Regions from separate parts of the Homo sapiens genome. Here region 2 is linked to region 1. Evidence: fine-mapped expression QTL. A gene starts in region 1. The other region holds a variant in brackets. All regions are shown on one strand. Distances are from middle to middle.

What was found. PIP is the estimated chance that this variant, and not a neighbour inherited with it, causes the effect.
Region 2: its variant is fine-mapped to the expression of ALDH1A2 in whole blood (INTERVAL, PIP 0.91).

Annotation. Positions count from the first base shown.
Region 1 is chr15:58,064,287-58,067,197 of GRCh38, forward strand. It overlaps ALDH1A2 (aldehyde dehydrogenase 1 family member A2), which reads right to left and starts at 1,425. Exons shown (of 13, transcript NM_003888.4): 1 at 1,248-1,425. The coding sequence starts at 1,364. ALDH1A2-AS1 (ALDH1A2 antisense RNA 1) reads left to right here and starts at 939. Exons shown (of 3, transcript NR_147215.1): 1 at 939-1,456; 2 at 2,529-2,648. RefSeq lists enhancers at 443-962, 963-1,482 and a silencer at 2,091-2,280.
Region 2 is chr15:58,507,490-58,510,400 of GRCh38, forward strand. All of the region lies in intron 1 of LIPC (lipase C, hepatic type), which reads left to right. Among named protein-coding and RNA genes, the nearest start is that of LIPC-AS1, 10 kb to the left of the region's middle. The variant TTG/T (reference allele first, on the strand shown) is at 1,243.

The sequences.
Region 1 (2,911 bases):
ACGGCTTTGAAAAATTTGTCACACCATCTAAAAAAGCTAGCAGGTACATTAAATCCATCTAAATCGACATTCAAAACACAAATCGCCCTGATTTGTAACCTAAAACTCAATGCAAGTAAAATCTCAATATTCTGATGTTGTTTCTTGTATATCTCATTCAACCACTAAGCCAGATGCAAACAATTTACTTCTCTACAAAATTTATCTTGTAAAAAAGCACGATGGAATACATCTTTAATCAACCTTTAACCATATGCATGTGCGTCTATGCGTTTGCGTTAATTGGGAGAAGTTGAGTGTAGAAATGTACCGAAAGGACTAGAAAATCAAACCAGAGAACTACAAAATGAACTCCAAGAAACGTGGTTTTCAATCCCATCTCTCTCTCACCACCTCCCTCAAAATGTTGTAACATTACAATACCCCTACGTTTGTAATCGATCATTTTTTTTCTATGTCGAATTTGTGGAAAGTAAATTCATTTTATATTAGGTAGCAGACGCATATTCTTTTTTAGGCGATGCAACAACAAAAATCCTGCTTAGCAAACCCAAGATGTCAACGTTCGTTATAAAAAAAAAAAAGTAAGTTCTTCAGTTCAAAACCGAACATGCTAACAAATATTAAAACTTTTTAAGTTTCCCAGGGAAACTGCCGCTGCCTACAAAATTCACATGAAACGCTGACGTTGGAGTTACTGTACTTATCAGTCAGGTTTCCGTGAAATTTGTCAAACCGGCCAGAGCGCTGGTGTCTTGACAATTCCTTACGGGAAAGCCCCTCAGCACCCTCCGGGCTGTGGAGGACCTGATTGGGACCAACAGCCGAGGGGCCCGGAAGGCGGAGGACCGAGAGGCGACGGCCAGGCTGCGTGGCCAAGCTGACGGGGAACCCCGGCCTCCATCTGAGGATACTAAGCGGTTCCGACGCCTTCCCCCGCGGCAGTCGGGACCGGGAGAATCGGACAGAAACCAGCCTCAGAGTCCGGGGCAGGAGCCGTTGACGGCTGCCCCTCAACGCTGCGCTTCGGGTTGGGTTAAGTCCCCAAGGCGTCCTCAGACCACGGCGGGGCTTCAAACGCCCCAGTCCCGAAGACAGGCAGGGGGTCCCTCTGCTGCGCCGGGATGACAGGCTGGCCCCGACGACCCCGGCCCCGTCCCGCAGCCCTCACCCGCTGAAGAGATCGGGGAAACCGAAGAAGGTTCTAGAAAGTCTCCGTGGACGACGGGCGCTGGGCGGCCGCTTACCTTGGTGTACTTAATTTCGAGATTGGGCGTGGGCGACGGCAGGAGGTGCAGCGACGCCATGAGGGCGGCGGGGTCGGCCTTCACCTCGCCGGGCATCTCTATCTTGCTGGAAGTCATGGTGGCGGGCCGGGTGTCCCTAGCCCGCGGCGTGGGGCAGTGCGGGCTGTGCGCGCGGTCCGCGGCCCGGGGGCGCGCTCGCCTGTATATAGGCAGGTGTCAAGCTGGGGCTCTTCTTATTGGACGTGAGGGCCGAGGCGCGGGGGGCTGGTCCATCCTACCTAGGACGCCCGGCGCAGCCTCCATTTACATAAAGCCCGCGCCGCGCGGCCGGGACGCTTGGCGCCCACGGTCAAGTCCGCCCGGCGCTCCCGCCCCCCGGCCGCGGAGACCAGCCCACGCCGCCTCCACAGTCCTCGACGGTGGGAGCGGAACTTGCGCCGCGGCCCGCGGGCCTCGGCCAGCCGGACTTGGTCTCCGGGTCCCTGGGTCAGAGTCGGCGGGAGGCGCACAGCGGCCGAAGTCGAGCGAGGGTCGTGGCCCCCGGAAGCGGAGCTGGCAGGGGCTGGCGGGGACCGGAGCGGCCCGGTGCTGCTTCGGAGTAGAGAAAGGCCAGGAAAGTCCAGGCTGCGGAGGGCGGCTCCCAGCTCGCCCACGTTCCCTCCCATCCCCGTCCCAGGACCCACCGAACCCCGTCCCCCTTCCTTTCCGGAGACCCGGGAGGGCGTCCTCCGTTCTCCTCCTCCGGGCAGGGGCGCCAGGCTCTCGGCAGCTACGCCCTCTCCCCCGACCCCCCGACTCCCCTCAGCCGGGCCGAGGTGCATGGTGGCCAGAGGGTCAGGGAGAGGTGGCAGTGGGTGCGAGTCCCCCTCGCCTCGGGCTCAGAATGAGGATCCCTGCGAGCGGGTCAGCGCGGGGCGGCCCTTGCCAGGCGTCGCCCGCCCAGTTGCTGCCCTCTGCCGGCCGGGACCGCCCGGGCGGCTTGCGCTGTGGCGGGAGGATATGGGCAGTGATCATCCCCGGCTCCTCCGAGGAGCTGCATGCTTCGTGGGCTCCTTTAGTTCTTCTCGGATCCCCTCTTCCGGCTGTTTCCCCTCCTCACCCAGCACACCCACAGAAACACTATTTTGTTTTTCTGTTGTTCCTTACACGCTAAGAGCTATCGTCCCGCCAGACCTTAGGCTCATTTTACTGTCCCTTTGGGATTGAGTTTCCATCTCCCCCCTAATCTAAGTGTTTCCAAAGTCTAACAAGCTGCCCTCTAGTCTGTGGATCGGCCTGCAGGTGTAAACCAAGAACCTAGAGACCCTGCCTCAGAATGGGCTTTGGACTCCGTGGACTAAATCAAGGCCGCATGGAAAGACCTGCATAAGTCCCTTCCCTTCCTTACTCCTCACTCCAAATGTAAGCTTGACAGGGGCCTACAGTGTTGATAAACGCTTTTTCTACACTACCAAGCAACACTGTGATTCTCGTCTTTTTGTTTTGTTTGAAGAGACAGGGTCTCACTCCTTCACTCAGGCTGGAATGCAGTGGCACCGTGACAGCTCACTGTGATCTTGAACTGGGCTCAAGTGACCCTACCACCTCAGCCTCCCAAAGTGCTAGGATTATAGGCATGAGCCACTGCACCCGGCCTGATTCTCATCTTAAATGCCATTTTTAGA
Region 2 (2,911 bases), 440 kb after region 1:
TTCTTTGAATCAAGGATTCCCCCGGCCACACACAAATCAGTACTTGCCTTACTTTGGAAAACGAAAAGAGCTCACTAAAGTGGTCCCTCTTATAATAAGGTGAGAGTGGCCTCTAGGACAAATTTCAGCTTGTACAATTCTGGAATACAGAAAGGGTAGCTGGCTAGCGACCTTTTTCCATACTCCACCAGGCACTGTGTAGAGGCTAAGGGAAAGCTTCCCCTTTGCCCTCTGAAAGCTCACTGAAAACTCACAGAAGACAGATTAGTAGAAGAAAAGGCATACGAATTTATTTTAACATGTCTAGCACTGGAGGATCCATAGAGAACAATTACCCATTAACCCTTCTTCATAGGGGAAGGGGAGATGGGGGAAATGTGGCAATTTGAGGGATGGTAAATGATTTTTAGGGGGAGACGAGTGGACTTGGGGAACTTACAATGGCCATGGACGAAGTCTGTTGGGACTTCAGAGCAGACAAGGGCTGGTAAATGATTCTCTTTGAAATACTGAATGAGCACCAAAACAGAAGACGATGGTTTGTGACAAAATACTGTCCAGGTGTGTTGACAGACTTCAGTCTTTCTTCCTGTGATATGGGTTCAGTTGATGAAAACTCAGGGAGGAGACTAGAGGTAATTGCTTTCTTCCTTGGTATTTCCAGACTTTAGGCAGATAAGGGATGAAGAGAACAACTTCATCCAGAGCTTTGGGAGAGATGAAGAATTGAGAGATGGGGTAGGGCCAAGGGTGGGGGGTAGGGAGTGAAGATCAGAGAGACCCTGAGGCTCTTCTTATTTCAGCATGTCAAAGCACCATATTTTGGGGTAACAGTTGCTGAGCCCCAACAACTGCCACCCCATAGTCAAATTAAGCCGATCATCCCCAAAGCAATATTAGTCCAGTCCAGTTCCTCTCATGACAAATGACCTGAACACAGGATTCAGCGAGTCTTACTCGCTGTGGTCATTTTGGAGGTAGGGAGATCATTAACCCACATACTTTGATAAAATACGAAACGCCTTTCCTAGCTGGTTCTTTTCCTCTCCTATAGGCCGACCCCCCTCCATCCCTTTATTAGTATTGAACTGAACAAATTAGTTAATATGGGAACATTTGGATGTATCAACTTTGCTCTGAAACAAAAATGTATTCATCCCCAAACTCTATGCTGGGGGCTGAGGGAGAGTCCTTACGACTGACATAGTCCCCAACAAGGTTCTCATTAGTCCCAGTTTTTTT[TTG/T]GACACCTTTTCCTCCGCATTCACATCCTTCTGCCCTCTCCAGCACTGTGCAGGAAGAACCAACCAACCTGACCTTGGTGAAAGGGCTGTGGGTTTTTCAACCCTTCATTCCTGCTACTTTTTTTTTTTAATTTTTTAGTATTCTTCTGTGCATCCTTTCTTCTCTCCTAGGCTTCTCACCCAGCCTCTCTGTTGAGTACTACTTGTAGGCAGAGCTCCCTCATTCACAACATCCCAATGTATTTGTCCTGTATCAAAGCAAACCTTATACAGTAGCTCTTTTAAGAACTGCTAAAGGAATGAAGGAACAAAACTGAGCCAAATAAAGCAAAATGAAGAGGATATGTATGCAGGCAATTGTGGGAACATATCACCAGAATCCTCTCTTGTTATTGTACCCAAATCCACACATTCTCCTCAGTGTTGTCTGGGAAATACATCAATCCACTGTGAATGGTTTAGATAGAATAGAATCCATCAATGTCACCAGCTTGATTCCTCCTCAGATGATGAGCCACTTTCTCCACTCCACCTCCAGGGCTGGCCCCAGTCTTCCTAAATGTTCATTAACTCCTATTAGGTATTCCGAAACTCTCAGGTTTTCTGAGTCAGCATAGAATGGTTGGAAAAGCAATTGCTGTAGAATCAAGAAGACTGAAATTGGAATACTGGAGCAACTACCTACTAGCCACAGGCAGGTTACTCTCTCTGAGTCTCAGGTTCCCCATTTGCAAAATGAAGCAAAGCTATCTACTCCAAGGATTGCTGTGAAGATTAAAAGACCACGTGCTAACCTAATAGGTGTTCAGTAAATAAATATAATTTTCTATTTTTCCCTGCAAAATTCATTTCCCAAACACAATCTTTATTCTTTTTTTTAACATATAATAGCCATACTATGGCTTACCAACTCCCCAGTAAGCCAGGACTCTCTGTATACGCAGTGTTTTGCCACATCATTTACATGGATGAAATTGTTTCCTATACTCCCAAATTTACCCTGCTTGGTGACCAAGAATCACTTCTGTCCCTATTACTAGTGATATCATGTCTGCATTTAGAAACAGACAAGTGTTATACAAAATTACATAATATGATAGGAATGCTGTCAATGGATATCTATTATTATATTTACCAGTCAAAATTTTAGTTGTTATAACTGGTATCACCAATTAAAAAATTTTATAAGAAAGGGGTTTTTGTACCATTGGATCTATTGAATCATTAAAAAAAAAAAGAGTTTAGAAAAAGAAGAAGCTATTTATATACTATTTCATTCCATAAGACTTTATCCAGTTCCACTGTTAATAAAATGTACATGCGCAGAATTGTATTGTTTTCTCCATTACTAAACATGTATTTGCTGAGTACCTTCTGAATGCCAACATGGTGCTAGGTACTGGGCATAGGGTGGAAGACACAATAGACAAGGACACAGCTCCCTGGTATGGGAAACAGATACTTTATGTCTTCAGTTGTAAGGTCCACTGTTGTTCCTATTTAATATCTTTGAATGTGGAATATATCTTACAATGCTGTGGGCTAGGGCATGGTTGTGACATTGATAAAAAGGGCTCTTAACTGCCATCGCTTCAGTTGACTTGCTTGCCTTTTTGAGTGGCAGTGCATGGCTTGAGCTTAATTTCCATTCAGAAGGTTTTTGAAAA